Linked DNA regions of Homo sapiens: all the other regions are linked to region 3. Evidence: fine-mapped expression QTL. A gene starts in region 3. Each other region holds a variant in brackets. All regions are shown on one strand. Distances are between the middles of the regions. Region 1 overlaps FAM186A (family with sequence similarity 186 member A). Region 2 overlaps CERS5 (ceramide synthase 5). Region 3 holds the start of CERS5 (ceramide synthase 5).

Evidence for each region. PIP is the estimated chance that this variant, and not a neighbour inherited with it, causes the effect. A credible set is the group of variants that fine-mapping cannot tell apart.
Region 1: its variant is the best candidate, but not a certain one, in a credible set for the expression of CERS5 in amygdala (GTEx, PIP 0.86).
Region 2: its variant is the best candidate, but not a certain one, in a credible set for the expression of CERS5 in blood mononuclear cells (TOPMed, PIP 0.76).

Annotation. Positions count from the first base shown.
Region 1 is chr12:50,366,934-50,377,874 of GRCh38, reverse strand. The region is part of intron 1 of FAM186A (family with sequence similarity 186 member A); the gene reads left to right. Among named protein-coding and RNA genes, the nearest start is that of FAM186A, 24 kb to the left of the region's middle. The variant C/T (reference allele first, on the strand shown) is at 4,621.
Region 2 is chr12:50,130,604-50,135,603 of GRCh38, reverse strand. CERS5 (ceramide synthase 5) reads left to right here. Exons shown (of 10, transcript NM_147190.5): 9 at 902-1,058; 10 at 4,910-5,000. Among named protein-coding and RNA genes, the nearest start is that of COX14, 21 kb to the right of the region's middle. The variant C/T (reference allele first, on the strand shown) is at 2,573.
Region 3 is chr12:50,164,663-50,175,557 of GRCh38, reverse strand. It overlaps CERS5 (ceramide synthase 5), which reads left to right and starts at 8,189. Exons shown (of 10, transcript NM_147190.5): 1 at 8,189-8,457. The coding sequence starts at 8,261. LOC124902931 (a long non-coding RNA gene) reads right to left here. Exons shown (of 2, transcript XR_007063304.1): 2 at 9,935-10,532. RefSeq lists enhancers at 6,840-7,601, 7,653-7,812, 8,703-8,842 and silencers at 7,913-8,312, 8,413-8,562.

The DNA.
Region 1 (10,941 bases), 200 kb before region 3:
TCATGTTGTACTTTCTTTCTTTTCTTGTTTTTTTTTTTTTGAGGTGGAGTTTTGCTCTTTTGCCCGGGCTGGAGTGAAGTGGCACGATCTTGGCTCACTGAAACTTCTGCCCCCACCGGGTTCAAGCAATTCTCTTTCCTCAGCCTTCTAAGTAGCTGGGATTATAGGTGCCAGCCACCACGCCCGGCTAATTTTTGTATTTTTAGTAGAGACAGGGTTTCACCATGTTGGCTAGGCTGGTCTCCAACTCCTGACCTCAGGTGATCCACCTGCCTCGGCCTCCCAAAGTGCTAGGATTACAGGCGTGAGCCACTGCGCCTGGCCTTGTGTTGTACTTTCATTGGTTGTGCCTTCGTTATCATATCAAAGAAATCATTGCCTTAACCCAAGTTCGTATTTTCTCCCATGTTTTCTTCTAGAAGTTTTATAGTGTTAAATTTTATATTTAGCTCATAGATTCATTTGACTAAATTTTTGAAATATTGTGCAAGATATGAATAAAAGCTTGTTTTTCACTTCTGGTTTGTGGATATTCAATTATTTGAACACCACTTGTTAAAAAGACTGTCCTTTCTCTACTGAGTTGCATTTGCACCTCTGTCAAAAATTAATTGACCACATGTATGTGAGTCCTTTTCTAAACACTCTATTCTATTCCATTCATGTATTTGTCCGTCATTACACCAATACCATACTGTCCTGATGATTGTAGTTCTTTTTTCCCCCTTTTTACTACCTAATTGCCAAATGGTGTTTCTTCCAACCTTGTGTTTTTTCCACTTCCAGAAGATTGCCCCTTTAAATTGTGCATCTTTAAACACAGTTCTGCTGGGTGCAGTGGCTCATGCCTATAATCCCAAGCACTCATGAGGCTGAGGTGGGAGGACCATTTGAGCCCAGGAGTTTCAGACCAGCTTGAGCAACACAGTGAGATCCCATCTCTAAAAAAAATAAAAATAAAAAATAATTAGCTGACCATGGTGGCACTCGTCTGTAGTCCCAGCTACTTGGGAGGTGAAGGAGGAAGGATCTCTTGAGCCCAGGAGTCCTAGGCTGCAGTGAGCTGTGACTGCATCACTGAACTCCAGCCTGGGCAACAGAATAAGACCTTGTCTAAAAAAAAAAAAAGAGAGAGAGAGAGAGAGGTAAAAGGAGGTTTGACCCACATTGCCAGTTTAGGGTGGAGTCCAGGACCAGAGTGAGAACTTCCTTGATGCCTTTTGGCCGATCAGATGGTACTTTTACCAGGCCCACCATGGCTGCTCATGGACCAGTCAGCATGCACTTCCTCCCTTTTGAGCCCATAAAAACCCCAGACTTAGCCAGACTCAGAGACTCCTAGGGACTACCTGCCTGCAGACAGAAGCTATCCACTTTGAGTGGCCTATACTCATCAGGCCTACCTGCCTTTGGATAGCAGCTACCCACTTCAAGTCTCCTCTACCCTTGTTGGGATGACTTGCCTGCGGATAGGAGCTACTCACTTCAGGTATCCTCTCTGCTGAGAGCTCTTCTGTTGCTCAGTAAAGCTCCTCTCCACCTTGCTCACCCTTCAGTTGTCCATGTAAACTCATTCTTCCTAGACATGAGACAGGAACTTGGGACTGAACAGCAGGAGCTAAAAGAGCTGTAACACATCCCCAGCTTGCTCACTGAGCTATGGGTTGTGACATGCCCCCGGACCGTGTGAGTGAAAAGTGGTGATCCTTCTGAGGGCCCAGACCTCTGAGCTTTTGGGCACCACTGAGTTTCCCTCATCCAGACACTGGTGCCTGCAGCAGAACCTGCTTGTGGTATGTCTGGTCCAGCCACAGCCTCTCCCAGAGCCAGTGCTTGTGCCAGCACCTGGAGATGCCTGCCCTGCTGCTACAGTGGGGGTGCACAGTGGCCAGACCCTGCACTTGCTTGCTCACACACCCCTCGGTGCTCCATGCCTGGCTCACCCTTGGCAGGCATGGGATCCGGGCCGGTATCACGATCTGAGGGCAGCTTGCTGGGCCTAGTAGGTGGAATGAGCCCAGTGGGCATGAGCAAAACTCAAGCAGAGGCGTCGCTGGCCACAGAGGTTTCTGGCTGGCAAAGTGACACCCATAGGATCCTGTGACACTGTTTTATTAAATTTCAATTTCTTTTTCTTTTTCTTTTTCTTTTTTTTTTTGAGATGGAGTCTCCCTCTGTCACCCAGGCTAGAGTGCAGTGGCACAATCTCGGCTCACTGCAATCTCTGCCTCCCAGGTTCAGGCGATTCTCCTGCCTCAGCCTCCCGATTAGCTGAGATTACAGGTATGCACCACCATACCTGGCTACTTTTTTTTTTTTTTTTTTGAGACAGAGCTTCGCTCTTGTTGCCCAGGTTGGAGTGCAATGGTGCAATCTCGGCTCGCTGCAACCTCTGCCTCCCGGGTTCAAGCAATTCTTTTGCCTCATCCTCCTAAGTAGCTGGGATTATAGGTGTGTGCCAACATGTCTGGCTAATTTTTTGTATTTTTAGTCGAGACAGGGTTTCACCATGTTGGCCAGGCTGGCCTCAAACTCCTGACCTCAGGTGATCCACCCACCTTGGCCTCCCAAATTGCTGGGATTACAGGCATGAGCCACCACACTCGGCCAAATTTCAGTTTGTAATTGTATATCGCTAGTGTAAATAAATGGTTTTTGGTTTGTTTTATTTTATTTGTATTTATTTATTTATTTTTTGAGATGGAGTGTCACTCTGTGGCCCAGGCTGGAGTGCAGAGAAGCGATCTTGGCTCACTGCAACCTCTGCCTCCTGGGTTCAAGCGATTCTCATGCCTCAGCCTCCCAGGTAGATGGGACTACAGGCACATGCCACCACGCCCGGCTAATTTTTGTATTTTTGATAGAAAGGGAGTTTCGTCATGTTGGCCAGTCTGGTCCTGAACTTCTGTACTCAAGTGACCTGCCAGCCTTGGCCTCCCAAAGTGCTGGGATTACAGGTGTGAGACACTGCTCCTGGCCTCTTTGGTAAATTCTTTGGGAGTTTTTACATGGACAAACTTTTTGTTGTAAATAGAAACCATGTTGCTTCTCTCTTTCCAATCCATTTTCCTGTATTTCTTTTTTTGACCTTATTGAATTGGTTAGGACATTTATCCAATGTTGAGCAGAAGTGATTAGAACAGAACCTTTAGAGCACTTGAGACGTTTACCATTAAGTATGATGCTAGCTGTAAATGTTTTGTAAATGCTCTTTATCAGGTTGAGGAAATTACCCTCTATTCCTCATTTATTATCGAGCTTCTTTTAGAAATCATGAATGAATGTTGAATTTTGTCAACTTCTTTTTCTGTATATACCGAGGCGATAAATGGTTCTTCTTTAATCCGTTGACATAGTGAGTTACATTTAGAAATTATCAAATTTTGAATCAGCCTTGCATACCAGGGTAAATCCCACTTTTTCATGATGCTATTTTTTAAGGATATTGTTTGTTTCTATTTTCTATTTTATTTTATTGGTCACCTATCTGTCCCAGAATTTTTGAAAATCTTTTTTTTTTAATTTCTATAAAGATTTTTATTTAGAACTTTCTTTCTTTCTTTCTTTATTATTATTATACTTTAAGTTTTAGGGTACATGTGCACAATGTGCAGGTTAGTTACATATGTATACATGTGCCATGCTGGTGCGCTGCACCCACTAACTCGTCATCTAGCATTAGGTGTATCTCCCAGTGCTATCCCTCCCCCCTCCCCCCACCCCACAACAGTCCCCAGAGTGTGATGTTCCCCTTCCTGTGTCCATGTGTTCTCATTGTTCAGTTCCCACCTATGAGTGAGAATATGCGGTGTTTGGTTTTTTGTTCTTGCGATAGTTTACTGAGAATGATGATTTCCAATTTCATCCATGTCCTTATAAAGGACATGAACTCATCATTTTTTATGGCTGCATAGTATTCCATGGTGTATATGTGCCACATTTTCTTAATCCAGTCTATCATTGTTGGACATTTGGGTTGGTTCCAAGTCTTTGCTATTGTGAATAATGCTGCAATAAACATACGTGTGCATGTGTCTTTATAGCAGCATGATTTATAATCCCTTGGGTATATACCCAGTAATGGGATGGCTGGGTCAAATGGTATTTCTAGTTCTAGATCCCTGAGGAATGGCCACACTGATTTCCACAATGGTTGAACTAGTTTACAGTCCCACCAACAGTGTAAAAGTGTTCCTATTTCTCCACATCCTCTCCAGCACCTATTGTTTCCTGACTTTTAAATGATTGCCATTCTAACTGGTGTGAGATGGTATGAAAATCTTATGAAGCATTTTTTGTGACTATTTTCATGAGGTGAGGGATATTGGTTTGTAGTTTTCTTCTTTTACATCTGTCTGATTTTGATATCAGGGTAACGCTGACATCAAAGAATGAGTCAGGAATTGCTCCTTCCTCTTCAACTTTTTGGAAAAGTTTGTGAGCTATTAGTATTATTTCTTTTTCTGTTTTGTTTTTTTGAGATGGAGTCTTACTCTGTCATCCAGGCTGGAGTGCAATGGTGTGGTCTCGGCTCACTGCAACCTCTGCCTGCCGGGTTTGAGCAGTTCTCCTGCCTCAGCCTACCAAGAAGCTGGGACTACAGGTGCGTGCCACCACACC[C/T]GGCTAATTTTTGCATTTTCAGTAGAGACGGGGTTTCACTATGTGGGCCAGGCTGGTCTTGAATTCCTGACCTCGTGATATGCCCACCTCGGCCTCCTAAACTGCTGGGATTACAGGTGTGAGCCACCGTTGCCCAGCCTAGTTTTTCTTTCTTTCTTTTCTTTCTTTCTTTCTTTTCTCTTTCTTTCTTTCTTTCTTTCTTTCTTTCTTTCTTTCTTTCTTTCTTTCTTTCTTTCTTTCTTTCTTTCTTTCTTTCATTCCTTCCTTCCTTCCTCCCTCCGTCCCTCCCTCCCTCCCTCCTTCCTCCTTCCTTCCTTCCTTCTTTCTTTCTTTTTTCTTTTTTTTTTTTTTTAGACGGAGTCTTGCTCTGTCGCCCAGGAGACTGGAGTGCAGTGGCACCATCTCGGCTCACAGTAACCTCTGCCTCCGGGGTTCAAGCAATTCTCTGCCTCATACTCCCAAGTACCTGGGATTACAGTCACCCACCAATATGCCCAGCTAATTTTTTGTATTTTTAGTAGAGATGGGGTTTCACCATCTTGGGCAGGTCAGTCTCCAACTCCTGACCTCAAGTGATCCACCCGCCTCGGCCTCCCAAAGTGCTGGGATTACAGATGTGAACCACCGTGCCCGGCCTAGTATTATTTCTTTTTTTTTTTTTGAGACAGAGTCTCACACTGTCGCCCGGGCTGGCATGCAGTGACACAATCTTGGCTCACTGCAACCTCTGCCTCCCAGGTTCAAGCAATTCTCCTGTCTCAGCCTCCCAAGTAGCTGGGATTACAGGTGCCCACCACCATGCCCGGCTAATTTTTTGTATTTTTAGTAGAGACGGGGGTTTCACTATGTTGCCCAGGCTGGTCTTGAACGCCTGACCTCATGATCCACCCTCCTTGGCCTTCCAAAGTGCTGGGATTACAGGCTTGAGCCACTGCACCTGGCGTATTTATTTCTTAACCACCATACTATGTATTAGTTGTGATGTTATTCTTTATCACTTGGCTTGGCCAACTTTGTCTCCCGTCTCCTGTGTTCTTGACTTAAGTTAGATTTGCTACAACTGCATCACCTCTTTTTCTGATTCCAGTATTTCCATACTTAACGTTTGATTATTCCTTTTTAAATTAAAAAAAAAATTAATTGGGCCAGCCACGATGGCTCACGCCTGTAATCCCAGCACTTTGGGAGGCCAAGGCAGGTGGATCACCTGAGGTTAGGAGTTTGAGACCAGCCTGACCAACATGGTGAAACCCCGTCTCTACTAAAAATACAAAATTAACTGGGTATTGTGGCGCATGCCTGTAATCCCAGCTACTTGGGAGGCTGAGGCAGGAGAATCGCTTGAACCCAGGAGGCCGATGTTGCCGTGAGCCAAGATCATGCCATTGCACTCCAACCTGGGCAATAAGAGCGAAACTCCGTCTAAAAAAAAAAATTAATTGTGGTAAAATATACATAAAATTTACTGCCTTAATTATTTTTAAGTATATAGTACAATAGTTTTAAGTGTGAATATATATTGCCATACATTATTTTGCAACCAAAGTCAGAACTATTTCACCTTTCAAAACTGAAGTTCTATATCCATTAAACAACAATATCCATTTCCCTTTCTCCTTATCCCCTAAAAACCACAACTGTACTTAGTTTCTATGAATTCAACTATTCTAGATACCTCATTTAAGTGGAATCATAAAGTATTTGTCTTTTTATGACTGGCTTATTCACTCAGCATAGTCTGTTCAAGGTTCATCCATATTGTAGTGTATGTCAAAATATCCTTCAATTTTAAGGCTGAATAACATTCTATTATGTATATTTTAAAATTAAATTAAGTTGGCCGGGCACGGTGGCTCACGCCTGTAATCCTAACACTTTGGGAGGCAGAGGCAGATGGATCATGAGGTCAGGAGTTCAAGACCAGCCTGGCCAAGATGGTGAAACCCCGTCTCTACTAAAAAATACAAAAATTAGCTGGGCATGGAGGCAGGCGCCTGTAACCCCAGCTACTCTGGAGGCTGAGGCAGGAGAATCACTTGAACCCTGAGGTGGAGTTTGCAGTCAGCCGAGATCATGCCACTGCACTCTAGCCTAGGTGACAGAGTAAGATTCTGCCTCAAAAAAAAAAATTAAATTGAATTAAATTTTATTTTTTTGAGATGAAGTCTCGCTCTGTTGCTCAGGCTGGAGTGCTGTGGTGCAATCTTGGCTCACTGTAACCTCCATCTCCTGGGTTCAAGCGATTCTTCTGCCTCAGTCTCCCAAGTAGCTGGGATTACAGGCACCCGCCACCATGCCTGGCTAATTTTTGTGTTTTTTAGTGCAACGTGAGGTTTCATCGTGTTGGCCAGCGTGGTCTCAAACCCCTGACCTCAAGTGACCTGCCCACCTCAGCCTCCCAAAGTGCCGGGATTACAGGCATGAGTCACTGTGCCTGGCCTCCATTGTGTATATATATAAATATATACCACATTTTGTTTATCCATTTATCTGTCAATGGGCACTTGGGTTACTTCTACCTCTTGGTTATTGTGAATAACGACACTATGAGCATGAGTGTACAAATATTTCTTAGGGACCCTGCTTATAATTCTTTTGGATGTATACACAGAGAACAATTGCTAGATCATATAGTGATACTATTTTTAATATCTGGAGGAACTGTCATCCTTTTCTTCACAGCAGCTGCACAATATTACATTCCTACCAGCAGTGCACAGGGTTCCAATTTTGCACAGCCTCACCCACACTTGTTATTTTCTGTTTTTTTCATAGTAGCCATCTTAATGGGTATGAAGTAGTATATCATTGTGGTTTTGATTTACATTTTCCTAATTACTAGTTACGTTGAACATATTTTCATATATTTTTGGGCCATTTGTATATCTTTTTTGGATCCTTTGCCCATTTTAAAATTGGTTTATTTGGGTTTTTGTTTTTGTTTTTTGGGGGGTATGGAGTGTCACTCTGTCGCCTAGGATGGAATGCAGTGGCACAATCTCGGCTCACTGCAACCTCTACCTCCCAGGCTCAAGTGATTCTTGTGCCTCAGCCACCCAAGTAGCTGGGATTACAGGAGTGTGCCACCATGCCTGGCTAAGTTTTGCTTTTTTTTTTTTTTTTTTTTTTTTGAGATGGAGTCTCGCTCTGTCGCCCAGGCTGGGGTGCAGTGGTGCAATCTCTGCTCACTGCAAGCTCCGCCTCCCGGGTTCACGCCATTCTCCTGCCTCAGCCTCCCGAGTAGCTGGGACTACAGGCGCCCACCACCACGCCCGGCTAATTTTTTGTATTTTTAGTAGAGACGGGGTTTCACTGTGTTAGTCAGGATGGTCTCGATCTCCTGACCTCATGATCCACCCTCCTCGGCCTCCCAAAGTGCTGGGATTACAGGCGTGAGCCACCGCGCCCGGCCTAAATTTTGCATTTTTAGTAGGGATGGGGTTTCACAGTGTTGGCCAGGCTGGTCTCAAACTCCTGACTTCAACTGATCTGTCCACCTCAGCCTCCCAAAGTCCTGGGATTATAGGGGTGAGCCACCAGTGCACAGCCTATTTGGGTTTTTTGGTTTTTCTTTTTTTGACATTGAGTTTGTACAAGTTATTTATATATTGTGGATATTAACCCTTAGTGGATATACAATTTGCAAATATTTTCTCCCATTTCCTAGGTTGACTTTTCAATCTGTTGATTTTTGTCCTTTGACAAACAAATGTTTTTAACTTTGATATAGTCCATTTATCTTTTTTTTTTTTTTTTTTGAGACGGAGTCTCACTCTGTCGCCCAGGCTGAGGCTGGAGTGCAGTGGCTCGATCTCAGCTCACTGCAACCTCTGCCTCCCGGGTTCAAGTAATTCTCCTGCCTCAGCCTCCCGAGTAGTTGGGTCTACAGGCGCCCACCACCATGCCTGGCTAATTTTTTTTGTATTTTTAGTAGAGACGGGGTTTCACCATGTTAGCCAGGATGGTCCGATCTCCTGACCTCGTGATCCGCCTGCCTCAGCCTCCCAGAGTGCTGGGATTACAGGAGTGAGCCACCGTGCCCAGCCCATTTATCTATTTTTACTTTTGTTGCATGTGATTTTGTGTCATGTCACCAAGAAATCATTGCCAAATCCAATGCCATGAAGCCTTTCTCCTATGTTTTCTTCTAAGTGTTTTATAAGTGTTAGGTCTTTAATCTATTTTGAGTTTAATTTTTTATATGATATAAGATAAGGATCCAACTTCATTCTTTCATGTGTAGGTATTCAGTTTTCCCACCAACATTTGTGTGTGTTTTTTTTTTTTTTAAAAGACTGTCCTTTCCTCATTGGATGGCCTTAGAATCCTTATGGAAAATAATTTAACCTTATGCTATGAATATACTATACTATACACATACTGTTAACTTGGTGTTTATTTATGGGCTCTCTATTCTATTCCATCAGGTTATATGTCTGTCGTTATGCCTGTACCACATTATTTTGATTAATGTAGCTTTGGAATAAGTTTGAAATCAGAAAATGTGGGATCTCCAACTTTGTTATTCTTTTTCAAGATTGTTTCAGCCATTCAGGATCCCTTGAGATTCCATGTAAATTTTAGGATGAATTTTTCTATTGCTGCAAAAGAAAAAAAAGCCATTGGGATTTTGATAGGGATTGCATTAATCTGTAGATTGGTTTGGGTAGTATTGACATCTTAACAATATTAAATATTCCAATCCATAAACATGTGATATCTTTCCATTTACTTGTGTTTTCTTTAATTTCTCTCAGTAACATTTTGTAGTGAAAACAACAAGTCTTTTACCTCCTTGGGTAAGTTTATTTCTAAATTTATTATTATTATTTAAAATATTTATTTATTTATTTTTGAGACAGAGTCTTGCTCTGTTGCCCAGGCTGGAATGCAGTGGCGCAATCATGGCTCACTACAGGATCCACCTCCCGGGTGAAGAAATTCTCCTGCCTCAGCCTCCTGAGTAGCTGGGATTATAAATGCCCACCACCATGCTGGCTAATTTTTGTATTTCTAGTAAAGATGGGGTTTCACCATGTTGGCCAGGCTTGTCACGAACTCCTGACCTCAAGTGATCCACCTGTCTCGGCCTCTCAATATTATTATTTTTGAGACAGAGTCGCTCTCTGTTACCCAGGCTGGAGTGTAGTGGCGTGATCTCAGCTCACTGCAACCTCTGCCTCCCAGGTTCAAGTGATTCTCCCACCTCAGCCTCCTGAGTAGCTGGGATTACAAACACCCACCATCATAGCTGAATAATTTTTGTATTTTTGTAGACACAGGGTTTCACCATGTTGGCCAGGCTGGTCTTGAACTCCCAACCTCAGGTGATCCACCCGCCTCGGCCTTCCAAAGTGCTGGGATTACAGGCATGAGCTGCGATTTCTAAATATATTATTATTTTTGATGCTATTATAAATGGCATTGTTTTCTTAATTTCTTTTTCATATTGCTCAGTGTTAGTGTAGTTAGCAAAGTGACTGATTTGTATGTATGTTTTACCCTGCAACTTTGCTGAATTTATTGTTCTAATAGTGTGTTTGTGTGTGTGTGTGTGTGTGTGTGCACGCACATGCACACAGAGGGTAATCCTTAGGGCTTTCTACATATATAGAGTTTTCTACATATGTAGGGTTTCTACAATTTAAGATCATGTTATCTATGAACAGAGATAATTTTACTTTTTCCTTTCCAAATTGTGTGCCTTTTATTTCTTTTCTTTTTTTTTTTTTTTTTTTGAGACAGAGTCTCGCTCTGTCTCCCAGGCTGGAGTGCAGTGGCACAGTCTCAGCTCATGCAAGCTCTGCCTCCCAGGTTCACGCCATTCTCCTGCCTCAGCCTCCCGAGTAGCTGGGACTACAGGCACCTGCCACCATGCCCAGCTATTTTTTTGTATTTTTAGTAGAGACGGGGTTTCACAGTGTTAGCCAGGATGGTCTCGATCTCCTGACCTCATGATCCGCCTGCCTCGGCCTCCCAAAGTGCTAGGATTACAGGCGTGAGGCACCGTGTCTGGCCTTTATTTCTTTTTCTTGCCTGATTGTCTAGGACTTCCAATACCAGGTTAGATAGATGGTGAATGTGGGCATCCTTGCCTTGTTCCTAATCTTGGAGGAAAAACTTTCAGTCTTTCACTGTTGAATATATTATAACCTGTGGGCTTTTCGTATATGGCCTTTATTATGTTGAAGAAGTTTTCTTCTATTTCTAGTTTCTTTTGTATATGTTTTTTGTTTGTGTTAAGACCGGGGCTCACTCTGTCACCAAGGCTGGAGTGCAGTGGCATAATCATGGCTTACTGCAGCCTTGACCTCCCAGGTT
Region 2 (5,000 bases), 37 kb after region 3:
TATTGCCCTGCTTTTACCTTAGCCTGTGCTGACCTTCTGTGGACTCTCATAGGACCTCTGCTGCCTCAGACCGTATTTCTAGCAAGGTCGGATCCAGACTCAGAGTACCCGGCTTGGTTGGCTTCTCAGGACTGACTCATCTCTGAGGAACAGTCCTCATTTTATGCCTAAGTAATTCCTTTGACTTCTTTTGCACTGTTGATACAATTCTCAGTCCCTTCTTGCTTGTGTTCCTGCTCTGGTCCCAACCCTGACACACACACACACACACACACACACACACACACACACACACTCCTCTCTCTCTCTTCCTCCCTCTCCTCTCTCTCCCTCCCTCCCCTCTCTCCCTCCCTCCTCTCTCTCTCCCTCCCTGTCCTCCTCTCTCTCCCTCCCTCTCCTCTCTCTCTCTTCCTCCCTCTCCTCTCTCTCCCTCCCTCCCCTCTCTCTCCCTCCCTCCTCTCTCTCTCCCTCCCTCTCCTCTCTCTCCCTCCCTCCCTCTCCTCTCTCTCCCTGTCTCCTTTCACTTTTACATTCACTGCTCTATGGGAATCAGCTACCTACTGTCCTATCCTATATGTGCCTGAGGAGCTCAGTCATTCATAGGATTAGAGTCCCACTGCTGTCCTAATTTCGTGAAACTCTGGATATTTGAAGTGATTAATAATGTGACTTAATCCATCAGTTCCTAAGATTTATATATCTTTCTCTGTCCCTAAGGATAGAAAACACAACAGGCTCCTCCCTTTCTTTATTTTCTTACTGTGGATGACGGTCCCTGGAACTTCAGCTGATAAAAGGGCTGGTAGGAAAACACACAGGGCTCTGCATCCCCAGGACTCAGCTTCATCCCTGTCTGCTGAGCTTTGACTCTAGAATCTGACTATTGGCCTCCCTCTTCTAGGATTCTGAACACGACCCTCTTTGAGAGTTGGGAGATAATCGGGCCTTATGCTTCATGGTGGCTCCTCAATGGCCTGCTGCTGACCCTACAGCTTCTGCATGTCATCTGGTCCTACCTAATTGCACGGATTGCTTTGAAAGCCTTGATCAGGGGAAAGGTGAGGATGAAAGATGGCTTCTTTCTTTTGGGTATGGAAGATAGGGATTACTCAACAGACGTTCTCTCTCCATCAAACCTGGTGAGCCCCATCTACTCAAGCAGGCCAAGCAAAAAGCCTAGGGCTCCAAAGTCTTCGCCTCTTCGGTAAGTGTTTTGCCTTTTTTATTTTAGAGACAAGGTCTTGCTCTGTCACCCAGGCTGGAGTTCAGTGGCATGATCATAGCTTACTGCAGCCTCACACCTGGGCTTGGATTCTCCCACTGCAGCCTCCCAAGTAGCTGGGACTATAGGTGTGCACCACCACGCCTGGCTAATTTTCTTATTTTTTGTAGATAGGGTGTCACTATGTTACCCAGGCCAATGTCCAACTACTGGCCTCAAGCAGTCCTCCCACCACGGCTTCCCAAAGCGATGGAATTACAGGTGTGAGCCACCACACCAAGCCTGTTTTACCTTTTTTTTTTTTTTTTTTCAGATGGAATCTCGCTCTGTTGCCCAGGCTGGAGTGCAATGTCACGATCTTGGCTCACCACAACCTCCACCTCCTGGGTTCAAGCGATTCTCCTGCCTCAGCCTCCCTAGTAGCTGGGATTACAGGCGCATGCCACCAGGCCTGGCTAATTTTTGTATTCTTAGTAGAAACGGGGTTTCACTATGTTGGCCAGGCTGGTCTCTAACTCCCGACCTTGTGATCTGCCCACCTTGGCCTCCCGAAGTGCTGGGATTACAGGCGTGAGCCACCGCACCTGGCCTGCCTGTTTTACCTTTTAAGATGTGACTTAGACGCAAGAGGAAAGTTCTACCTTCTTCCTGTCCCTTAGGAATGGCTTTTGTTAAAGGATGATAGGGTTAAGAGTTTTTTAAGAGATGGCCTCAACCATTTCCTACCCCTTACCTACCTGCTTCAGTGGATTTCATATTTTTCTTTTTGACATGGGGCCCTTTTCAAAGGAAATCATATGCAGAACCATATAAACTGTATAAAAGCAGATTGTTAAGTTGCCTAGAAGTGGTGTGTGGTAGTTCACAAGCCACCACAAGGTGACCATGCTGTGATATTCAAGATATGGTTTATATAAGGAACTAAATACCCACCTCACCCCACTAGTGTATGAGGCAAGTGTCCTAAGTGAATGGGTATGTAGTGTTTCAAATACCCATCTTATGCCAAGAGCGAAAGAAAGGTGCCACTTAATGATAAACTCATAATTGAACTTTGCAAGTTTTGAAGCAGTCAGACTGTAGTCAAAGGGCTAGGGATTTCAGCCTAAAGGAATACAGAATCCCAAGTGGGAGGGGCTCTGCTTGAGCAGGTACTGATACTAGGACCAAGTGATGGAATGTGGCCTAGATATTGATGATCTCCTGCATCATTATTCCTTATAGCTGCCATTGGCTCAGAACTTGCTCAGTGTGCCTGTGCATCTTGCTGTAGCTACTGGACATCTCTGTTCTCTCCTGCTTTTCTTTCCTGACTAGGTGACCTGTCCAGGAAGGATTAGACCCTGTACT[C/T]TCCACTCTTTCCTCACCTCCTTCCTTTTTTCTATGCCTGGCGGGAGCTGGACAGTTTCATCTCTTGCATGTAAGTGTATCTGTGCTTCTAGTATTCAGTGAGGCATGTCCATCTGAATGTGGTTCTCTTTCCTCCTGCTCTCCTTTCTGTTCCCTTGTGTTTGTCTCAGAGCATGCCCTCTCTCCTGACTTTTCGGGGCCATTATTGACTAGAGCTGCAGTTGCCAGATTTTTTCCTAAACTGAGGCAAGAATTGAGTCTACTTTTTTTTGTTTTTCTTGAGTCTCTGTTTACCTCAAATCTAGAGACACTCTGCCCTCTAGTGGAAATTTCCTAAAGGTCAGGTAATCAGTTAGTCATCTAAGTTCAGAGGCCAACAGCTATAATCAACTGTAGAAGACCCATCCAACACAAATTCAAGGAGCTGATCCAAAGCAAATGCCCACCTCCTTGGCAACAGTTGTTACAGCTGTGTTCCTTTTCACTTCCTTCTCTCCTTTACTTAAACCACATTTATTATCCTTCAGTTCTGGAGGTCAGAAGTCCGACACAGGTCTCACTGGATTTCTGTTCTTTACTATTAGAGTCCAGGGTAATTTTTTTTTTTTAATTTTTATTTATTTATTTTTGAGACAGAGTTTAGCTCTTGTTGCCCAGGCTGGAGTGCAATGGCGTGATCTTGGCTCACTGCAACCTCTGCCTGCCCAGTTCAAGCGAGTCTCCTGCCTCAGCCTCCTGAGTAGCTGGGATTACAGGCATACGCCACCACGCCTGGCTAATTTTTTTGTATTTTTAGTAGAGACGGGGTTTCTTCATGTTGGTCTGGCTGGTCTCGAACTCCCGACCTCAGGTGATGCGCCCACTTCAGCCTCCCAAAGTGCTGGGATTACAGGCGTAAGCCACCATGCTCGGCCCTTTTTTTTTTTAGAGACAAGGTTTTGCTCCATTGCCCAGGCTGGAGTACAGTGGCGCAATCATGGCTCACTGCAGCCTCGACCTCCTGGGCTCAAGAGATGCTCCTGCCTCAGCCTCCCAAGTAGCTAGGACTACAGGTGCATGTCACCATGCCCAACTGATTTTGTCATTTTTTATTTTTTGTAGAGACAGGGCTCTCTCCATGTTGCCCAGGCTGGTCTCAAACTCTTGGGCTCAAGCTGTCCTCCTCCCTCAGCCTCCCAAAGTGCTAGGATTATAGGTGTAAGCCACTGTGCCTGGCTCATGGTGGAGAAATTGAAATACTTTGCTTGATATGCAGGATAGTTTAGATTAGGAAATGCTGCTGTAATCCAAATGCTTCATTTGAAAATAATACAAAACAAAAAAACCCAGGTTAATAAGCATTCACAGATGGTAGCATGATTAGAACTGGGATTCTTTTCTCATTGACTGCCAATCCATTTGTGTTTTCACTATACTGTGTATCTTGGGGATGCTGAAGTTTCTTTTTTTTTTTCTTTTTTTTTTTTTTTTTTTGAGATGGAGTCTCACTCTGTCGCCCACGCTGGAGTGCAGTGGCACGATCTCAGCTCACTGCAACCTCCACCTCCGGGGTTCAAGAGATTCTCCTGCCTCAGCCTCCTGAGTAGCTGGGATTACAGGTGCGCGCCACCACACCCGGCTAATTTTTGTATTTTTAGTAGAGACAGGGTTTCTCCATGTTGCTCAGGCTGGTCTCAAACTCCTGACCTTGTGATCCGCCTGCCTCGGCCTCCCAAAGTGCTGGGATTACAGGCGTGAGCCACCACGCCCAGCCAGGGATGCTGAAGTTTCATAAGAAAAGTGATCTTGCTATTGGGAAAGGGAAGAAGATTGGAAAACAGTGTCATAGGATAGTGGTAGTTGAGCCCAGGAGTGGGAAACTACTAAAAAAGGCCTGTTATGGATCAGCTTTGGGGATAAAGCAAAACAGCATAACCAATACGAATAAATGCATTGTCCACAACCACCAGAAGATAGAAGCATTGCTGACAGTCATACGTATTGTTCGTGTTGGCCTTCCCTGTTCTTTGAAGTGGAAGAAGAGAAAGGGTGTCTGAAACCTAAACCAGGTCTCAGTGAATGATGTCAGTTCTCTTAGGCTGGTCCTGAAAGACACACTCCTCTACCAAAGTAGCTTCAATTCCACAGAGAACAGAATTGGAGATGACAAGGGAGAAAACTAGAAAGCAGGTAAAGCATAGTCACAACAGTAGCCATAGTCCAGACAATACTTCTTTGAGTTAGATGTCATCAGAAAGCAGACCAGACTGGGAACACAGTGCCCACACCTGGGTCTCTGAGCTTAGGTGTCTTACAGTTCTTTCCTCACTTTTCTGTCTTTGGTCTCATCCCACCCAGGTATCGAAGGATGATCGCAGTGATGTGGAGAGCAGCTCAGAGGAAGAAGATGTGACCACCTGCACAAAAAGTCCCTGTGACAGTAGCTCCA
Region 3 (10,895 bases):
TTAATGTGTGCATTCAAAATGAGGTATTTTACCAATTCGAAATCTAGTGGTGGTTTTTATTGTTTATAACACTCAACATTGAATAATTCACCTTACAATTATGCCTAGCATGCTGAATGGATTTCCAAATGTCTCTGCTGAAAATGGACTTGTTTTTCACTTTAGGCAGATGCTTTTTTTTTTTTTTTTTTTTTGTAGACCGAGTCTTGCTCTGTCGCCCAGGCTACAGTACAGTGGCACCATCTCGGCTCACTTCAACCTCCGCCTCCCCGGTTCAAGTGATTCTCCTGCCTCAGACCTCCTGAGTAGCTGGGATTACAGGCGCCTGACACCACGCCCGGCTAATTTTTGTATTTTCAGTAGACTCAGGGTTTCACCATGTTGGCCAGGCTGGTCTCAAACTCCTGACCTCGTGAACCACCCACCTCGGCTTTCCAAAGTGCTGGGATTACGTAAGGTGTAAGCCACCGTGCCTGGCGCTTTTTTCTTTTTTTTCTTTTCTTTTTTTTTTTTTTTTTTTTTGTTGTTGTTGCTGTTTTAAGATCAATGTTTGGCCGGGTGCAGTGGCTCACGCCTGTAATCCCAGCACTTTGGGAGGCCGAGGCGGGCGGATCACGAGGTCAGGAGATCAAGACCATCCTGGCTTACATGGTGAAACCCCATCTCTACTAAAAATACAAAAAATTAGCCGGGCGTGGTGGCGGGCGCCTGTAATCCCAGCTACCTGGGAGGCTGAGGCAGGAGAATGGCGTGAACCCGGGAGGCGGAGCTTGCAGTGAGACAAGATCGCGCCACCGCACTCCAGCCTGGGCGACAGAGCTAGACTTCGTCTCAAAAAAAAAAATCACTGTTCACACCAAGTGGGCAGATGCATTTTTGATTGATTGATATCCTTGCCTGTAGAGGCAACTGTTCCAATTGTTCAGGCTTTCTTTTTAATTGGTAGGGTTGAAATGTGGATTTCCTTGGAGAGTTAAGGCATGCTTTTTGAGTCATCTGTTACATTTTCCAGGATCCCTGTGTTTTCTAGAGTCTTGCCTGGTTTTCTGAGTGGTTGGTAGGATACTACTTTCTGCTCTTGCCCCCACTGAGTCATTTAAAGATCCATGTTCAGACCGGGCGCAGTGGCTCATGCCTGTAATCCCAGCACTTTGGGAGGCCGAGGCGGGCGGATCACCTGAGGTCAGGAGTTGGAGACCAGCCTGGCCAACATGGAGAAAACCCATCTCTACTAAAAATACAAAATTAGCCGGGCGTGGTGGCACATGCCTGTAATCCAAGCTACTCAGGAGGGTGAGGCAGGAGAATCGCTTGAACCCGGGAGGCAGAGGTTGCAGTGAGCGGACATCACACCATAGCACTCCAGCCTGCGCAACAACGACGAAACTCCGTCTCAAAAAAATAAAAAGCCGGGTGTGGTGGCTCATGCCTGTAATTCCAGCACTTTGGGAGGCAGAGGCGGGAGGATAACCTGAGGTTGGGAGTTCCAGACCAGCGTGACCAACATGGAGAAACCGCGTCTCTACTAAAAATACAAAATTAGCCGGGCATGGTGGCAGGTGCCTGTAATCCCAGGTACTAGAGAGGCTGAGGCAGGAGAATCGCTTGAACCTGGAAGGCAAAGGTTGCGGTGAGCCAAGATCATGCCATTGCACTCCAGCCTGGGCAACAAGAGCAAAACTCCATCTCAAAAAAAAAAAAAAAAAAATCCATATTCACGTTAATCCAAAAGCTCCCACTGATATAAAATATCCAATCCTGGCTTGAACTTCTGTGACTTGCGTTTTACTATAATCCATCCACATGGTACTCACATTATGCACTGACTTTATACAAAAAAGTTTAAGTACCTGTGGATATCAGTTGAGTGGGCCACCCCTTGGGGACTGAGATTACCCTCAGAAGAATTCTTTTTGACTGGGTGCGGTGGCTCACACCTGTAATCCCAGCACTTTGGGAGGCTGAGGTAGGTGGATCACAAGCTCAGGAGTTCAAGGCCAGCCTGGTCAGCATGGTGAAACCCCATCTCTACTAAAAATACAAAAATTAGCTGGGCATGGTGGTACGTGCCTATAGTCCCAGCTACTCAGGAGGCTGAGGCAGGAGAATCACTTGAACCCAGGATGTGGAGGCTGCAGTGAGCCGAGATTGCACCACTGCACTCCAGCCTAGGCAACAGAGTGAGACTCCATCTAAAAAAAAAAACAAAAAAACTCTTTTCTATGCCTTTCAAGGGCTAAGATATAGACGTATCATGGGTACACAGAGTAGGAACAAGGAATAGCTCCAGAGTCAATATAAAGAAAGGATGTCCTAGCCAAAAGAATGACCAGATAACACTGAACATTCTTAGAAAACAAAAGCAGCCAAACAGAAAAAGCATTAATCATTTGTTCTTTTAGCTCTCTAAATGAAGGCTACCTTGTTTGGACCTGGTATATCACTGGTGACTATAGGGTGATGACAGCTTTTCTGTTGGTAAAGCAGAAAAAGGGGCCAGCTTGGGACTTATGATGGTTAAGGAGGCTCTGCTCATGACTGCTACAAGGCCAGCTTGGTTCCAGTGACTTGCTGGATCACTCTTGGGCAAGGTGAAAGTAAATTTGCTTTGCATTACATATTTCATTAGCAATGTTTCCCAACAGCCAAGAGACTGGGAATTGGTACATGCTCATTTTTCTGGGGATAGAATCATGAACAGGGGCCAGGCACAGTAGCTCATGCCTGTAATCCCAGCACTTTGGGAGGCCAAGGTGGGCAGATCACCTGAGGTCAGGAGTTGGAGACCAGCCTGGCCAACACGGCGAAACCCCGTCTCTACTAAAAATACAAAAATTAGCCAGATGTAGTGGCGTGCACCTGTAATCCCAGCTACTTGGGAGGCTGAGGCAGGAGAATTGCTTGAACCCGGGAGGCAGAGGTTGCAGTGAGCTGAGATGGCGCCACTGCACTCCAGCCTGGGTGACAGAGCAAGACTCCATCTCAAAAAAAAAAAAAAAAAAAAATCATGAATAGGGTCTCAGACCAAGATCATTGTGTACTGGTGGTTCCTGTATGCTAAGTTAGTATGTCCTCTGTTCCTTGAGATGCTGATTGAAAATCCCATGGGGCTGGGTTTATTACTTCCTTTTAAAATATATCTTTTCTTTTTTTTTTTTTTTTTTTTTTTGAGATGGAGTCTCCATTTGTTGCCCAGGCTGGAGTGCAGTGGCACAATCGGGTCACTGCAACCTCCGTCTCCCGGGTTCAAGCGATTCTCCTGCCTTAGCCTCCCGAGTAGCTGGAACTACAGGCACCTGCCACCATGCCCAGCTAATTTTTATATTTTTGTACAGGTGGATTTTTGCCATGTTGACCAGGCTGGTCTTGAACTCCTGACCTCAGGTGATCCGCCTGCCTCAGCCTCCCAAAGTGCTGGGATTACAGGCGCGAGCCACCCTGCCCAGCCCTTTAAAACTGTATCTTAATATAGTGTAGTTACCATGAAGCTATTCCTGGGTTTGGATGGAAGTGGCTTCAGGCAGTGGTTCACAGAACAGCAGCAGTGGCATCACCTATGAGTTTGTTAGAAATGGGAAATGCAAATTCATAGATCCTACCCCCAAACTCATGAAAGCAGAATCTCTCTGGATGGGGTCCAGGAACTTAAAGAAACTCTCTTTATGCGAGATGGGACAAGCTGATATCTGAGCTGATGCTAAAGTTTGAGAGGCACTGAACTAAAATGAAGCTAACCAGCTGGGCTCGGTGGCTCACACCTGTAATCCCAGCACTTTGGGAGGCCAAGGCGGGCGGATCACCTGAGGTCAGGAGTTTAAGACCAGCCTGGCCAACATGGTGAAACCTCGTCTCATAAAAATACAAAAATTAGGCCGGGCGCAGTGGCTCACGCCTGTAATCCCAGCACTTTGGGAGGCCAAGGTGGGCGGATTACGAAGTCAGGAGATTGAGACCATCCTGCTAATACAGTGAAACCCCGTCTCTACTAAAAATACAAAAAAATTAGCCGGGTGTGGTGGCGGGCGCCTGTAGTCCCAGCTACTAGGGAGGCTGAGGCAGGAGAATGGCGTGAACCTGGAAGGCGGAGCTTGCAGTGAGCCGAGATCGCGCCACTGCTCTCCAGCCTGGGCGACAGAGCTAGACTCCGTCTCAAAAAAAAAAAAAAAAAAAAAAAAAATTCGGCCGGGCGTGGTGGCTCAAGCCTGTAATCCCAGCCATTTGCGAGGCCCAGGCGGGTGGATCACTTGGGTCAGGAGTTCCATGGCCAACATAGCGAAACACAATCTCTACTAAAAATACAAAAATTAGCAGGGCATGGTGGAGCCTGCCTGTAATCCTAGCTACTCGGGAGGCTGAGGGGAGAGAATAGCTTGAATCCAGGAGACGGAGGCTGAAGTGAGCCGAGATCCCGCCAGTGCACTCCAGCCTGGGCTACAGACCGAGACTCCGTTTCAAAAAAAAAAAAAAAAAAGCCGGGCGCGGTGGCTCACGCCTGTAATCCCAGCACTTTGGGAGGCCGAGGCGGGCGGATCACGAGGTCAGGAGATCGAGACCATCCCGGCTAAAACGGTGAAACCCTGTCTCTACTAAAAATACAAAAAATTAGCCGGGCGTAGTGGCGGGCGCCTGTAGTCCCAGCTACTTGGGAGGCTGAGGCAGGAGAATGGCGTGAACCCGGGAGGTGGAGCTTGCAGTGAGCTGAGATCCCGCCACTGCACTCCAGCCTGGGCGACAGAGCGAGACTCCGTCTCAAAAAAAAACAAAAAACAAAAAACAAAACAAAACAAACAAACAAAAAAAACACTTTAGGCTGGGCGGAGTGGCCTCACGCCTGTAGTCCCAGCACTTTGGGAGTGTGAGAAATCGGAAAGTTCTTCAAAGATTATAAAAAGTCACAATTTCTTACTATAAGATTGCTATCCACTGTGTGTGTGTGTGTGTGTGTATGTATGTGTGTGTGTGTGTGTGTGTGTGTGTGTGTGTGTGTGTGTATTCCAAATCAGCTGTCCTAGATTGCTCCTGCATGCCTGGACAGAACTAGACAAGCCCCAGCCCACAGTGCATGCCATTCCTTATTTGGTGATGCTTCCTTAATGATCCCTGGGCAACTTCCTTTTCTTTCTTTGTTCTGTTCCCCTTAACCAATTTTAAAAGTTTTAAACTAATAGCCAATCAGGTAAAGTGTAAAATGTGAGGTCCTATTCCAGCCAATGGAAAATGGACACAGCAGTAGGGTAGACACCTCAGATTATAAATAACTCTGTCTCCTTTGTTCGGTGTGCTCTCATGGCTAGACAGCTTTTGAGTAGCAGCACCCTTTCTGCAGAAAGTAAAGCTCTCCTTGCTGAGAGATCATTTGTTCCCGTGTTTTTTTGTTTTTGTTTTGTTTTCTTTTCTTTTCTTTTTGCAACACCAAAAACTTCATTCCCAACAGGGATACTGAGACAGGCAGATCACTTGAAGTCAGGAGTTCGAGACCAGCCTGGCCAACATGGTGAAACCCCAGGCTCTATCAAAAAATACAAAAATTAGTCGGGTGTGGTGGCACGTGTCTGTAGTCCCAGCTACTCGGGAGGCTGAGAAGGGAGGATCTCTTGAACCCAGAGGTGGAGGTTGCAGTGAGCAGAAATGGCACCACTGCGCTCCAGCCTGGGTGTGAGACTCCTTCTCACAAAAAAACATGCAAACAAACAAAACAGCCAAATTTAAAGGAGTTTTTTGTTTGTTTGTTTGTTTTGTTTTTTCTTTCCAAGACAAAGTCTCACTCCGTTGCCCAGGATAGAGTGCAGTGGTGCTATCTCAGCTCACTGCAACCTCCGCCTCCTGGGTTCAAGCGATTCTCTTGCCTCAGCTTCCCAAGTAACTGGGACTACAGACACGCACCACCACGCCCAGCTAATTTTTGTATTTTTAGTAGAGACGGAGTTTCACCATGTTAGCCAGGATGGTCTCGATCTCCTGACCTGTGATCCGCCTGCCTCGGCCTCCCAAAGTGCTAGGATTACAGGCGTGAGCCACCGTGCCCAGCCTAAAGGAGTTTGAGCAATGTATGATTCTCAAATTGGGCAGCCCCTGAATCACAGCAGATTCAGAGAGACCCAGCATATCCACAGAGACCCAGCATATTCACGTGGTGGAAGATTTATGGACAGCAAAATGAAAGTGAGGTACAGAAACAACCAGATTGGTTACAGATCAGCGTTTGTCTCATTTGAACGTGGTTGGAACAGTTGGCTACATTTGATTGGCCAAAATTCAGTGATTGGCACTGGTGTGGTCTACGTTCGATTTACACCTCCACTTGTTACAGTTCACAATGTACAGAAAACCTTTAGGCCGAACTTAAATATGTAAGGAGGCAGCTTTAGATTAAACTTGACTTAACACTAGCTACCACTTCTTACCTACATAACTTTGGGCAAGTTGTTTGGCCTCACTGGACCTCAGTTTACTTATCCAGTGGGGATAACAAGATCAACTTTATAGGGTGAAGGAGTGAAATAACCTGTGTAAAATGTTCCATGCAGTGCCTGGCACACAGGAAACCTCATCAAACATTGGCTATTTATTTTGTTTTGCCTTTAGGTCCTTTAGATATACTTTTTTTTTTTTTTTTTTTGAGACGAGTCTCACTTTGTCGCCCAGGCTGGAGTGTAGTGGCGCAATCTGGGCTCACTGCAAGCTCCGCCTCCCGGGTTCACGCCATTCTCCTGCCTGAGCCTCCCAAGTAGCTGGGACTACAGGCGCCCGCCACCATGCCTGGCTAATTTTTTGTATTTTAATAGAGATGGGGTTTCACCGTGTTAGCCAGGATGGTCTCGATCTCCTGACCTCATGATCCGCCCGCCTCGGCCTCCCAAAGTGTTGGGATTACAGGCGTGAGCCGCGCCCGGCCTTTTTTTGTTTGTTTTTGTTTTGAGACGCTCTGTTGCCTAGGCTGGAGGGCAATGGCGTGGTCTCGGCTCACTGTGATCTCCGCCTCAAGCAATTCTCCTGCCTCAGCCTCCCGAGTAGCTAGGATTACAGGCATGCACCACCACACCCGGGTAATTTTTGTATTTTTAGTAGGGACGGGGTTTCACCATGGCCAGCCTGGTCTCGAACTCCTTACCTCAGGTGATTCTTCCGCCTTGGCCTTCCAACGTGCTGGGATTACAGGCGTGAGCCACCACACCCGGCCTGCCTTTACGTATACTTTTTGAGTGCTTCCCTTTTCACTTTGTTTTTCTTCCATTTCCTTTTCCCCAAGAGAAGAATAAAAGGATTTTTGTAAACTTTTTTTATTTTTATTTTGGGACGGAGTCTTTGGTCTGTCGCCCAGGCTGGAGTGCAATGGCGCGATTTCGGCTCACTGCGACCTCCGCCTCCCAGGTTCAAGCGATTCTCCTGTCCCAGCTTTCCGAGTAGCTGGGATTACAGGCACAGCGCCACCAGGCCCAGCTAATTTTTGTATTTTTAGTAGAGACGGGGTTTTGCCATGTTGGCCAGGCTGGTCTCGAACTCCTGACCTCAGGTGATCCGCCAGCCTCGGCCTCTGAAAGTGCTGGGATTACAGGCGTGAGCCACCGCGCCCGGCCTTTTGTAAACTGTTAAGTCCATTTTTTCTGAGGAAAAGTGACTAATTTTTAAGGGATAAAGCAGTGAAAGTAGGCTGAGGTCACGGGGCACGAAGGGAAGAAAAGGTTGGGAGCGAAAAGAACTCTAGTGGCGGACAGTAGTGGGCAGGACCAGCTGACATCCAAGAGAAGCCCTGACCTGAGAGATCGATCTGGCCTCCGGGAGTGGAGACAGAGGTACCGCCTGGGTGGGAGCCGGAACGGATTCGATTCCAACAGGCTGAGAAAGGAGAATGTCCCCGTAAAGGAGCTAGGCCTGAAATAAGGGGTGTGGCCGTAGCTGGATGGAAGAGTGAGGGAGGAGTAGAAGCGTGGCCTAGACCAGCAGCAAAAGAGGGCGGGCCCAGGGCCGCCCGAGGCGTGGTCCCAGGGCCGGGCTGGGCGAGTCAGAGGCTCGGGAAGGGGCGTGGATCCCCGGAGGCGGTCCCCGGGTTGCAGTGAGGGAAGTGGGCCGGGAGGAGAGATGGGCGGTGAAGAGGCCCGGCCCTGCCAGGGAGGCGGGCGGATCCGTGGCAGTGACCAGAAGGGGCCGGAAGGGGGTGGCCGCCGGCCGGGCCCCGCCCTGGGGCCGCCTCCCCGCGGGTTCCGTTGGCTGTGGCGGCAGCTGACGCTTGTGGCGGCGGTGGCTTCGGGGTGGGCGTAAGATGGCGACAGCAGCGCAGGGACCCCTAAGCTTGCTGTGGGGCTGGCTGTGGAGCGAGCGCTTCTGGCTACCCGAGAACGTGAGCTGGGCTGATCTGGAGGGGCCGGCCGACGGCTACGGTTACCCCCGCGGCCGGCACATCCTCTCGGTGTTCCCGCTGGCGGCGGGCATCTTCTTCGTGAGGCTGCTCTTCGAGCGGTGAGAGCCCGGGAGCGAGCGGCTCGGGGGCCGGGCGCGGGCCGGGGGCGCCCCGCTGTGGGAAGGGCCGAGGGCCGGAAGCAGAACTGCAAGGAAAGCCCGGAAGCAGGGGCTGGGGGAGCTTGGGCCGCGGCGGGTGATGCTAGGCGCGTGGGCGAGGTGGTAGCCTAGATGGAGAAGGAGTTTGGGGCGTGGGCAAGAGAAAGAGTGAGGGTCTAGGGGAATGCTGGGCCCCTTCAATGTTAGATCCGGAGTTGGATTGGGGGGGTCATATAGGCCTCCTCCCAACCTCCAAGGGTCCTACAGATGAGGAAACAGGTTCAGTGTGAGCTCTGGCAGAGGCCCCGAAGAGAGGGATAGGAAGGGGCCAGGAGAACCAGAGCTAGTTGTGACCATGGAAGCCGAGGGGTCAACGCAAGGGCCAGACGTTCCAAGGGAAAGGAATGGACTCATCAGACTCTTAAGATTTGTTAGGACGCTTGAGTTTCCGAGAATTGGGGGGAACAGGATTAGTTTGGCCCTAAGAGTTGGTTTGGTATGTCAACTCATGCACGTTTGTTGGTAGGAGGGTAGAAATCTGGTTGGGATAGGGTGTGGTGGAGCCCTAGGCTTCCAAAGTAATGGAAAGATGTCAGATTAGTTGCAGAACAGGCCTTGGGGCCTGAAATGGAAGGAGGAGTGTGTTCGAAGGGATGGAGGAGAGCCACAGGGCTTTATCAGAGGACAGCTATATTGAGCCAGATTCTTTTTTCTTTTCTTTTTTTTTTTTTTTTTTTTGAGACAGAGTTTCGCTCTTGTTGCCCAGGCTGGCGTGCAATGGCACGATCTCGGCTTACCGCGACCTCCGCCTCCCCTGTTGAAGCGATTCTCCTGCCTCAGCCTCCCGAGTAGCTGGAATTACAGGCACGCGCCACCACGCCCGGCTACTTTTTGTATTTTTAGTAGAGACGGGGTTTCGCCATGTTGGCCAGGCTGGTCTGTAACTCCTGACCTCAAGTGATCCGCCCGCCTCTGCCTCCCAAAGTGCTGGGATTACAGGCGTGAGCCACCGCACCCGGCCTTGAGCCAGCTTCTAAATGAGTTTAGCAGAATTGCAGTATACTTTGTTCAACCACATGATTTCACCTTTAAGTGAATGGATCATATGTTTGTCCAAGATAAAGATATTCACTGAGGCTTTGGTGTGTGATATTATAATGTGAATTTATACCTGTGGGTGATTTTGATCAAGTCTACTCAGACTCCAAGAAAGGAGACATGTTTCTGCCATAGGCCTCAGGTAATGAGGGTGGTTCTTGGACATCTGTTCGTTTTGCCTTTATCCAAGCATAAATGATTGTAATGCAGGAATGCCCTTTCTAGGATGGGAATATGTTGCAGGTGAAATAATCTGTTAATTTCTGAAAGATAGCATCTGTTTGGGATTGCTTCTTTGATTTGCCTACTGTTTTTGACTCAAGTCTTTCAAAATCTTGTGTTCTATTTAGCTAGTCACGCATCCATTTATTCGTAGTATTTGTGCATCATCATCATCAAAATGCTCTGCCAGACGTTCAAGTGCAAAAATAAAGATGCTTAAGTGAAGCAAATGAAACCCAAAGATCTAAATGGCTTTCCTTGGCCCTCAGGAACTTAGTGTAGCAAGGTTTTTTTTTTTTTCTTTTTCTTTTTCTTTTTTTTTTGAGACGGAGTCTCGCTCTGTCGCCCAGGCTGGAGTGCAGTGGCGCGATCTCAGCTCACTGCAAGCTCCGCCTCTCGGGTTCACGCCATTCTCCTGCTTCAGTCTCCCGAGTAGCTGAAACTACAGGCGCCCGCCACCATGTCCGGCTAATTTTTTGTATTTTTAGTAGAGACGGGGATTCACCGTCTTAGCCAGGAAGGTCTCGATCTCCTGACCTCGTAATACGCCTGCCTCGGCCTCCCAAAGTGCTGGGATTACAAGCGTGAACCGCCGCGCCCGGCCTTGTTTTGTCTTTTTACGTGTAATCGTTGTAGTTAGTCATCCTGGAGTGGAGGCACAAACTGCTTGTCTGTCTTTGGAATAAACTAGATCCAGGTACTCTCTTCCATAGTCTCTGTATATGAGGGCCAAAAAAAAAAAGGAGGAAGGCAATGTAATCACTACAAAGGAAAATACACAAGTCAGGACAAATTTTTTTTTAAAAGGTGATTTTCATAGAAAAACATCTCTGCTTTTCATATAAATATGTGCCAATATGGAAATTTCCCCATGTTAGTGGTAAGAGGAAATAGTTTTGTTGCTTATAAACACCCATTTTATATAAACTTACGTATCTCTTGAGATTCCAAAGTGTTCCCTCAGATGGCTGAAGACATATATCCCCTGGCAGAGCTGCTGGAAGGGATCCTTTACCTGTGGGAATTCTATCTGAGTGTTTCTATGGTGCTCCAGTGTCAGAGGAGTACAGGTGGATGGG